Homo sapiens: one gene and its partners. Changing the gene in region 3 together with the main gene of any one other region gives a genetic interaction. Each region holds a gene or a part of one and is shown on either strand. Other genes may lie near its edges.

What was found.
Region 1: changes in DCTN2 (region 3) and COX6C together harm fitness more than expected from each alone (negative genetic interaction), as found in Homo sapiens cells (one large-scale study listed by BioGRID).
Region 2: changes in DCTN2 (region 3) and UBA2 together harm fitness less than expected from each alone (positive genetic interaction), as found in Homo sapiens cells (one large-scale study listed by BioGRID).

The regions. Positions count from the first base shown.
Region 1 is NC_000008.11:99,887,162-99,890,810, forward strand, and holds part of COX6C (cytochrome c oxidase subunit 6C), read right to left. Parts: intron 458-3,649; coding exon 344-457; 3' UTR 329-343; intron 1-328. UniProt on the Homo sapiens protein: Component of the cytochrome c oxidase, the last enzyme in the mitochondrial electron transport chain which drives oxidative phosphorylation.
Region 2 is NC_000019.10:34,455,859-34,459,507, reverse strand, and holds part of UBA2 (SUMO-activating enzyme subunit 2), read right to left. Parts: intron 740-3,649; coding exon 584-739; intron 1-583. UniProt on the Homo sapiens protein: The heterodimer acts as an E1 ligase for SUMO1, SUMO2, SUMO3, and probably SUMO4. It mediates ATP-dependent activation of SUMO proteins followed by formation of a thioester bond between a SUMO protein and a conserved active site cysteine residue on UBA2/SAE2.
Region 3 is NC_000012.12:57,533,611-57,537,259, forward strand, and holds part of DCTN2 (dynactin subunit 2), read right to left. Parts: intron 2,236-3,649; coding exon 2,139-2,235; intron 1,936-2,138; coding exon 1,874-1,935; intron 1,545-1,873; coding exon 1,446-1,544; intron 843-1,445; coding exon 682-842; intron 488-681; coding exon 343-487; intron 1-342. UniProt on the Homo sapiens protein: Part of the dynactin complex that activates the molecular motor dynein for ultra-processive transport along microtubules. In the dynactin soulder domain, binds the ACTR1A filament and acts as a molecular ruler to determine the length.

The DNA of each region.
Region 1 (3,649 bases), on a different chromosome or scaffold from region 3:
AACACAAAGCCTAGCTTATAATAAAACACTGAGTATCTCACACAACACTACAGAGTACAGCATCAGCTGTTTACCCTTGTGATTATGTTTCTGACTGGGGGATGTGGTCATTGGTGCTCCCCCACATCACAAAAGTATTGTGCCACTTATTGCTCATGTGGACAAAGATCAAAATTCAAAGTATGGTTTCTACCAAATGTGTATCACTTCCACACCATCGTAAAGTCAAAAAATCTTAAGTCTAAACATTGTGAGGGACAGTCACCTGTATTTGCATTTTACCACAATTAGAAATTTTTTTTTAAGTAACTTCAAATAACCATATTACCTTTATATTCCAAGATTACTTTACACTCTGAAAGATACCAGCCTTCCTCATCTCCTCAAAATCTTTCATGACATCGTAGTTTCTGTAGAAATCTGCGTATGCCTTCTTTCTTTGATCAGCCACACGAAACTAAAAAGCAACCATCCATTAGAGTTTATTTTTCAGATTACTGGAAATTAGATTCCAGATTATAATATATAAAGACAAGGTAGAACACATGTTTTTGTTCACCCTTTAATTTAAACCCTACATTTCCTAAGGGGTGGAGGTGGTGACAGATAAAAAGGAAGACAAAGTCTAAGAAACTGCTAAATTTGCAAAGAAAAGAATGGGGAATAAGGTGTCTATTTTGTTTTGTTCGAGGTTTCCGTACACAAAGGGTGGGTGGGGTTCAACAGAGAAAGAAAAAATGAAGATTCAAGACAAAAATGGAAAGTTTAAGTGACTTATTATTTTTTTTAAAGATGGGGTCTCGCCTGTAGTCCCAGCTACTCGGGAGGCTGAGGCAGGAGAATGGCGTGAACCCGGGAGACGGAGGTTGCAGTGAGCCGAGATCTCACCACTGCACTCCAGCCTGGGGGACAGAGCGAGACTCTGTCTCAAAAAAATAAAAAATAAAAAAAAATAAAAAATAAAAAAAAAATAAAAAATAAAAAAGATGGGGTCTCCCTCTGCAGAAATACACAGAAATCATGCTACTTGATGGAGTAACGCAGTAAGAATCCTTTACCTGACCAGTTTTACTGCTTCACTTCTATTTGAATTCCCAATTTCTTCCCAGTAATAAAATCAAGAGGCAGAGGTCGGGCGTGGTGGCTCATGCCTACAATCCCAGCACTTTGGGAGGCCAAGGGGGGCGAATCACAAGGTCAGGAATTGGAGACCAGCCTGGCCAACATGATGAAACCCCATCTCTACTAAAAATACAAAAATTAGCCAGGCATGGTGGTGGGCACCTGTAATCCCAGCTACTTGGGAGGCTGAGGCAGGAGAATTGCTTGAACCTGGGAGGCCTCGGAGGGTGCAGTGAGCCGAGATGGTGACGCTGCACTCTAGCCTGGGTGACAGAGCAAGACTCCGTCTTGAAAAAATTAAAATAAAAAGAGGCAGAAGCACAAGTGCTGGGGGCCATCATTACATGTACGGTTAATTTGGACTCTCCCTACCTCACTTAGTCATCCATCTGACAGAGAGACAGCCAAGGGTCCTAGCAAAAACCCACCTTCAAGCCTAAAACAGCCTGAAGGCTGAAAGGCCAGACTGTTGGACCCAGATCCCACGACCCTGAGGGAGAGCTGCACATTTGCCCACCCTTTCAGGACTGATTCTTTTTGAGTAATGGCCACAGGCACACTGGGGGAACAGGGTGGAACCAGGAGAAGCTGCACCTTGTGCAGTGGGGAGGAGCCTAGTCTCTTCAGCTCCTGTGTGGTAGCCTAGTATTCAATCTGTGAGGTGGGGGCCTGTTAGCAGGACCCCCTCTTGCTTTGCTGAGAGTCTGTTTTCTTTTTTCCTTTTCACCCAATAAATTCAGCCCTCCTCACCCTTCAATGTTTCCATGTGCCTAATTCCTCCTGGTCATGACACAAGAACCCAAATTTAGCTAAACTAAGGAGCAAAAATTCTGCATCACATCCATCCCTTCTACAAACATTTACTTCATGCCCACTATATATGCCAGGCAGCAGGAATCTCAAGGACCAAAAGACTTTGTGTGCTTGTCTCTCCAAAGAGTCCCAAAGCATAGGTCCACTTAGTGCTCCCACTCAGTGTTCCATCTCCTCTTTGCTCTCCCAGTTCTCCCTAACTTTTTTTTTTGAGACAAAGTCTGGCTCTATCGCCCAGCCTGGAGTGCAGCGGCACGATCTCGGCTCACTGCAACCTCCACCTCCCAATTTTTTTTTTTTTTTTTTGAGACAGAGTCTCGCTCTTGTTGCCCAGGCTGGAGTGTAATGGTGCGAACTCGGCTCACTGTAACCTCCCCTTCCTGGGTTCAAGCAATTCTCCTGCCTCAGCCTGCCGAGCAGCTGGGATTACAGGTGCCCGACACCACGCCCGGCTAATTTTTTTGTATTTTTAGTAGAGATGGGGTTTCACCATGTAGGCCAGGCTGGTCTCGAACTCCTGACCTCAGGTGATCTGCCCGCCTCAGCCTCCCAAAGTGCTGGGATAACTGGCATGAGCCACTGTACCTGGCCTCGCCTCCCAATCTTGGCTGACACCTCTGCCTCCCAGGCTAAAGCCAACCTCCCACCTCAACTTCCTGAGTAGCTAGGGCCACAGGCACATCATGTATTTTTGTATTTTTAGAAGAAATGCGACCGGGTGCGGTGGCTCACGCCTATAATCCCAGCACTTTGGGAGGCCGAGGCGGGCGGATCATGAGGTCAGGAGATGGGAGACCATCCTGGCTAACACGGTGAAACCCCGTCTCTACTAAAAAATACACAAAAAATTAGCCGGGTGTGGTGGCGGACGCCTGTAGTCCCAGCTACTCAGGAGGCTGAGGCAGGAGAATGGCGTGAACCCGGGAGGCGGAGCTTGCACTGAGCTGAGTTCACGCCACTGCACTCCAGCATGGGCAACAGAGTGAGACTCCATCTCAAAAAAACAAAAAAAAAAAGAAGAAAGGCCCAGCTAATTTTTGTATTTTAGTAGAGACGTAGTTTCTCCATATCGCCCAGGCTGGTCTTGAACTCGTGAGCTCAAGCAATCCGCCCACCTCAGCTTCCCAAAGTGCCAGGATTACAGGCATGAGACACCAGACCCAGCCCCTCTCCCTAACTTGCAAGGCTCAAATTCCACCTCCTCTATCAAATAGCTATGACCCACAATAACTGTGAACCACAACATCCCCCAAAACCATTCTTTCAGTTATGTTCTATCTTGCAATGTCTTCTAATTTTTTTCACCTCCCCAACTTGACTCTAAGTTCTTTAAGAACAGAGATTTAGCTACATGCCTTTTGTGTCCTCCAAAGCACTTGAAACTCTACATTACCCAACACTGTACTGAATTTTATACACTGCCTCTTATTCAACAGGTCCTTTTAATAACCTATTTGTGTGTCAGGCACCCAACAACAGGGTGCCACAGTAAACAAAAGACATGGTACCTGCCTTAATGAGGCTCACAGCCCAGTAAAGAACATAAACACTAAACAAAAATTAAATACAAAGAGTTATAAAAGCAAAGCTCTGAATTCTTTCATGGGGTATTATGACAAGCATGATAAACATATACATATTATCAAAAACATTTTTACGGAAAAGTTGTAAATGTGCAGCCTTTGATTAAAAATAAAGGGCATAACAAAATCCA
Region 2 (3,649 bases), on a different chromosome or scaffold from region 3:
TTACCATATCAGAATCAGGTCATATTAGATAAGTGTGTACCACCACTTAGCCTCAACTCAGACCTCAGAAATAACAAAAGCCCCCTAATTTGCTGGGAGTGGGCACTGTCCAACACGCAGAGAAACCAAAACTCTGCAAGTTACTTATACCCTTTAATACAAAGCTGGTAACTGGGGCTTTGCTCTACTGGAAATGCAAACTTTGCACTGCATGCAAATACTTATCTGCTCACTGCCACAGTGAGGACCATTCAAGGATACCTGTTATTTGTCAAAAAATACAGAATTTACCCACTGCCTGGGAAGCAAAGAGCAAAGAAGTCCTCTGCTTGCTGTGATACTGTGCCACCACTGTGCTGCAGATTCCAGTCAAATACTCCTACTCCATTCTGGGAATGTGAGGCACTTATTCTGGAACCACAGACAGAAAAGCCTGCAGGAATCCAGAAGGCAAAATAACCCAGGAAATCACAGCCACACATCTCTGCAGTTGGACCTTTTCAGAATCAGCAGCTAGTGTTTGTTTGTCATCACAGTAATACTGTAAAAGCAAAAGGAAAAGAGACCCAGGCCTTGCACTGACCTTGTCTTGTAAGGTGAGAACAGTCACTTTATGGACATTCAGCCGCACAGTCACCTCTGGCTTGCTGGCACATACATAACAATTGGGGTTGGGAGGATCCAGTGCACAAGGCACAAGAAGCTTCTTTCTTGGGTTTGGTTGTTTATTCAAAAAAATCTTTGGAGGAGAAATAACAGGCAGAAATCGGAAACGTGCTGTAATTTTATACGCCATACAATCTAAAATCTCGTTTACCAGATATCCAATAAAAAATGACTTAAAAATTCCCGTCCAGATGGCAAAATGGATCAGGAAAATCATGACCTTTTTAGGAACCTGGTTTTTCAACCTTCTTTTTTTTTTTTTTTTTTTTTTTTTTTTTTTTTTGAGACGGAGTCTTGCTGTCGCCCAGGCTGGAGTGCAGTGGCGCAATCTCGGCTCACTGCAGGCTCCGCCCCCTGGGGTTCACGCCATTCTCCTGCCTCAGCCTCCCGAGTAGCTGGGACTACAGGCGCCCGCCACCTCGCCCGGCTAATTTTTTGTATTTTTTTTTTAGTAGAGACGGGGTTTCACCGTGTTAGCCAGGATGGTCTCGATCTCCTGACCTCGTGATCCGCCCGCCTCGGCCTCCCAAAGTGCTGGGATTACAGGCGTGAGCCACCGCGCCCGGCCTCAACCTTCTTTTCTAATCAGCTAAAGGCTAGGCTAGCTAGGCTTGCTGAAAAGACATCTCCTTGTATTATATAAGACTCCGCGTTCTTCTGCAACCTGATTTGGCAAGAGTAAGGGCACAGGCATGTTAATCTGTGGTGCCATCATTGTATCAGCAGCTGGTGTCCCTCCCTGAGGCTATTCTTATCAAGCAAGCAATCTCCTGACAAGACCAACACATTAATTTCTCCAGTTAACGATAGTGCCTTTCACAGTTGTCTAGAATCAACATCACTGCCTTCCCAAATTTTCTGATTAGAATAACATTTATATAATGAGGGAAAAAAATGTATTTCTGGCAGTATATGTACCTATTTACCATTTCTCTAATACTAAACAAAAAAATAATTAAGAACCAAGGCAAATATACAAATTACACTGAAATTAAGAAAAGCTCCAAGCTCCTGCTTCTACTAAAGTTTAGAAAACACTAGCAAGATCCAACAGAAACAACAAATGTCAGAAGACAAGAAGCTGAGACACAAACCTTTATCTTGTGACTACAATGTAGTGTTGAGTCTGCTAAGAGGAATGAATTCTAAAGGAGTACTCTACGGATTCCCCTGAGAATACAGAACTAAATCCCTCAAGAGACACTAAAGCCGTCCTCTGTAAAATAGCTTCTCCGTACAATGAATACTGGTAGGTGGAAGGGCTAGAAGCAAACTGCCCAGGCCAAGCAGGCTACAGAGGGAGAAAGATTTGTTTGATTTTGGGCTTCACCGGGAAGGTAAGTGTGCTAAGGGAAACTGACAATAATAAAAGCAATTGCTACCACTATTAATACCTGGGCTAACATTAATCCAGGCTGGAATTCATTTGCAAATGTAAAAAAATGAAATCCAGATATATTACTATATTTTTTCTTGAGGCAGAGTTTCGCTCTTGTTGCCAGGCTGGAGTGCAATGGCGCGATCTCGGCTTAATGCAACTTCCGCCTCCCAGGTTCAAGTGATTCTCCTGCCTCAGCCTCCTGAGTAGCTGGGATTACAAACATGCACCACCATGCCCAGCTAATTTTATATATATATATATATATATATATATATATATATTTTTTTTTTTTTTAGTAGAGACCAGGTTTCTCCACGTTAGTCAGGCTAGTCTCGAACTTCCAATCTCAGGTGATCTGCCTGCCTCGGCCTCCCAAAGAGCTGGGATTACACGTGTGAGCCATCGTGCCCGGCCAGATATATTACTATTAATAGTCCAAGAGTGGCATGGAGCTAAGCAGGCAAAGAAACCGGAAGGATGTGATGGGAAATAACAGACATTTTAATAAGTTCAGTAATTAGTACTGTTGGTGAGCTCAAAGGGATACTACAGCTTCAGGCTGCTATAAAAAATTTTTTTTAAATAATTTAAAAACTGGGTATCGGCCAGGAACGGTGGCTCACTCCTGTAATTCTAGCACTTTGGGAGGCCAAGGTGGGCAGATCACCTGAGGTCAGGAGTTCATGACCAGCCTGGCTAACATGGTAAAACCCTGTCTCTCCTAAAACTACAAAAATTAGCCAGGCGTGGTGGCACCCGCCTGTAATCCCAGCTACTGGGGAGGCTGAGGCAGGAGAATCACTTCTACTTGGGAGGTGGAGGTTGCAGTGAGCTGAGATCGCGCCACTGCACTCTAGCCTGGGTGACAGAGCAAGACTCCATCTCAAAAAAAAGATACCAAAAAATAAAGTTCTTAGAAATTAAAAATATAACATATACAATAAAAGTTTAAATAGAAAACTAAATCAAGATGGCAGACTGGGCAATTTGATTCTGTTCCTTCAAACTGAAATTTCATGAAAATAAAATATTTTAAGAGTGCATCGAGGCTGGGCGCAATAGCTCACGCCTGAAATCCCAGTACTCTGGGAGGCTGAGAAGGGCGGATCACTTCAGGCCAGGAGTTTGAGACCAATCTGGGCAACAGGTGAAACACCGTCTCTACTAATAATACAAAAATTAGCCAGGTGTGGTGGCATGTGCCAGTAATCCCAGCTACTTGAGAGGCTGAGGCAGGAGAATCGCTAGAACCCAGCAGGTGGAGGTTGCAGTGAGCCGAGATCACATCACTGTACTCCACTGTACTCCAGCCTGGGTGAGAGCAAGATTCCACCTCAAAAAAAAAAAAAAAAAAGAAAAAGAAAAGGAAAAAAAGAGCGCATCGGGCCAAGTGCAGTGGCTCACACCTGTAATCCCAGCACTTTGGGGGGCCAAGGTGGGAGGACTGCTTGAGCCCAGGAGTTCAGGACCAACCCGGACAACATAGCAAGACCCCATCAGTTTAAAAAAAAAAGGCCGGGCGCAGTGGCTCATGCCTGTATGCCTGTAATCCCAGCACTTTGGGAGGCCGAGGTGGGCGGATCATGAGGTCAGGAGTTCGAG
Region 3 (3,649 bases):
AATACAAAAAATGAGCCGGGCGTGGTGGCAGGTGCCTGTAGTCCCAGCTACTCAGGAGGCTGAGGCAGGAGAATGGCGTGAACCCGGGAGGCGGAGCTTGCAGTGAGCCAAGATTGCGCCACTGCACTCCAGCCTGGGAAACAGTGCAAGACTCCGTCTCAAAAAAAAAAAAAAAAGAAAGAAACATAGAGAACAACGAATCAGGAATCAAAAGAGGAATCAATCAAGAGGAATCAGAGGAATCAGAAGCCTTCCCAGCACCCTCTCCTTGGAGAGAGGCAGGAAAATCTCTAGGGTCACATCTCCCCTTGGCTTCCCAACCAACACTGTATCCACACTTACTTTGGCAGCTTGAGAGAACTTGTCCTGCTCAGGCCGAGAATGTAGTTCATAAGTGACAAGGCTGCTATCTGGGGGGGTCCCAGTGGTTTTTCCCCCTGATCCCCCTTTGCTGTTCTTTGTTGCTTCCAGCTGCAGTAGTAGGCGCCTAGTTAGGAGACCGAGTAATAATATCATGACTGGAAGGAGAAGGGCCAGTCACTCTCCCTCACTTTTGCCTCATAATCAGCATTAAGAAACATCTAAGCCACTTCTCTGCCACTTAGCACCCCTGTCAGTAGCTGGCTGAGTCCATCCACAACCCCAGTCAGCAATGATTTTTCAACAAAGTAGGGTACCCACTTAGCCAGGGCGCCATCGGGGTCGGTAAGGTTGATTGCAGCATCTGGTCCCAGCAGCTTCTCCAGGTGGGAAGCAACCAGCTGCTGCTTCAGGGCTGCCAGCTGTTTAGCCAGCAACACAGGGGTCAGCTTCTCCTCTGTGGCTGACTCCTTCACTGTCGTCTAGTATGAAAAAAGGTAGAAATCGGGGGATGGCAAGAATGAATCAAGAAGCAAAAAAATAGGTCAAGCCCTTTAAAGGTAGTTGTAGCTGGAGGTCACTGGGATGGTTTTCAGCATGACAGACTGCCCACCTGTATGTAGCACTGCATACAGATGGATGCATATTTGTAAACTCTGGAAACCTTAGCCCCTTTATCCAGGAGCTTAAGGAATCTTTCTTTCTTTCATTTTTTGAGATGGAGTCTCGCTCTGTCACCCAGGTTGGAGTGCAGTGGCATGATCTGGGCTCACTGCAACCTCCGCCTCCGAGTTCAAGCAATTCTCCTGCCTTAGCCTCCCGAGTAGCTGGGATTACAGGTATGCGCCACCACACCTGGCTAAGTTTTTGTATTTTTTTAGTACAGATGGGGTTTCATCATGTTGGCCTGGCTGGTCTTGAACTCCTGACCTCAGGTGATCCGCCTGCCTCGGCCTCCCAAAGTGGTAGGATTATAGGCGTGAGCCACCGCACCCAGCCAGGCAGGGAATCTTTCTCTTCTTGCTTGAGGTCTTCCTCTACTGTGTAAGTCACAGCAGAGAAGGGAGAAGAGAGTTTGTAGTTACCTTGATTTTTTCAACTTCAGTTGTCAGCTCTTGGACCTCATGCAGTAGGCGCTGGTACTTTTGCTGGGGTGTCTCCTTCACTCCCAGACCCTCTCCAAGCTAGAGAGCAGGCACAGAGGGTAATGTTATATGTCTCATTACAGGGAGCCTCAAGAATTCATCCACACCCTGGGCCTAAGTCATAAAGGTATCATATCCAATTGAGAATCCACAACACCCTAGTACCAAAGAACTGAGGACAGCTAGAGGGCTGGAGGCTCTCCAGAACAAACAGCAGTAGGGCAGAGTTTCCCTGGCTGCATCCTGCTGCTTCCTCAGGAACAGAGGAGGAACAGAATCCCGCCTGTATCCCTTGATCTCCCTACTACATGTCTGCTAGATAGGGTCACTACACCATTCCCATCAACACACACACACACACAACAAACCATCTCATATTCTCCAGATTCATATCCTGTCCTCTTGGTTTTTCCAATACGATCTGAGAAATCTGCCAAGAAAAGAAGATGGAACTGAGGGCCTGATCTAGGCCCAAGGCAGTCATGGTCTCAGGTGACTGTGAGGGCTTCCATAAAATATCTCCATGAGGGACCCCTTCCCCCAAGCACAACTCACTAAGACTTTAGGACAGGAAACCACTTCTCATGCTTATCCTCCAGTCTTCCCCCCACCCAGCTTCCAGCCCAGTCTCACCAAGTCCCTTTGTCCCCACTCTCTTGTCCTTGAACTTGTCATAGGCAGCATTAGGATTGACAATGATGTGTTCCACACTTGTGCTTGTCAGCTCCTCCTGCAAGAACAGGTAGTTTAGGCCAGGGACACACTCATTCCCACTCTAGAACTTACTCTACCCCACAAAATCCCCAAACCATTAGGTGACTGGGCCCTACTTGTCCAAGGGGAAAGAAGGGTGGCTCTATTCCAAGGCGCCTACCCAGGCTTAACCTAGGAAACTGAAGCTTCCTGGTAAATTTGGAGCCTCAGTTGTATAAATATTAACACCCTCATTCAACTGGGAGCAGAGGGAGCATAACCTCCCCACCCTCTCTGTACATAAGCCTTCCCATCCCCCCATGCTACCCCTCCCAGTTGTCTGGCACACGCCATGCACTCAAGGCAAGAAACCAACCTGACCTCTTTTAACCTCCCCCTCCCAAAAGTAAATCTTGCCCGCTGAGCAAGTCCATTTTAATGCTAACCTCCCATCCTTGCTAGAAGGAAAGAGGAGGGAAGGCAGATAATCAGGCCACTAACACTGAGTGTGAATATTAGGACTTTAAACCTGTTGAAGGTAAGACACAAGCTCTTAGTACAAAAAGAAGGCCGACAGAGGGCCTGACCAGAAGCCTGATTTCCAGGCTGCCATGAGGCCAGCGAACTCAGGGACAGGGAGAAGGGGCAAGGGCTTACTGGATTATCTTTATGGGACATCTTAGAAGCAACAAACATAGGCAATATCTGCTTGCCAAGAGTATCCATGGGCAAGAGCCACATGTAAGCTCTGAAATGGAGATAAACCAGCATCTCTTCAGAGACGCTGCAGCACCTGATTTTTCTCCCTGACTCCTCTGCTATGCTTTAAGCACTGAAGCTCTTCCAAAAACAGGGGACACAAGTAGGCGGTGAAAGAGACTTCACCCTAGAAACTGAAGCAGAGAGGTTCCCTCCTTACTAGATATCTACATGCTGTTCAGATTCCAGTGACAACACCAAGACTGCACCAAGCACTCCTGACTGCATGTCCCTTTTTCAATTGTCAGAAGCCTGACAGCTCCCAACAGAGTACTGATGGAAGTAGGAGGGAGACCCAGGAGTCCTTTTCTGTTGGGGATGACATCTCTACCTTCTATGGGAGGAAGGCAAAATGAGCCTTCCTTCTTTCACCTAGAACAATGGTTCTCACCCCAGGCTGCATGTTAGAATCACTTATAATTTTTTTTTTTTTTTAAATAGACAGCCGGGCAATGGTGGCTCAAGCCTGTCTGTAGTCCCAGCACTTTGGGAGGATCCTAATTCCAAGTGATCCACCCGCCTCGGCCTCCCAAAGTTCGGCCAAGGCGGGTGGATCTCAGGAGTTCAAGACCAGCCTGGGCAACATAGGGAAACCCCAACTCTACAAAAAATATAAAATAGCTGGGTATTGTGGCACGTGCCTGTGGTCCCAGCTACTCAGGAGGCTGAGGTGGAAGGGTCACTTGAGCCTG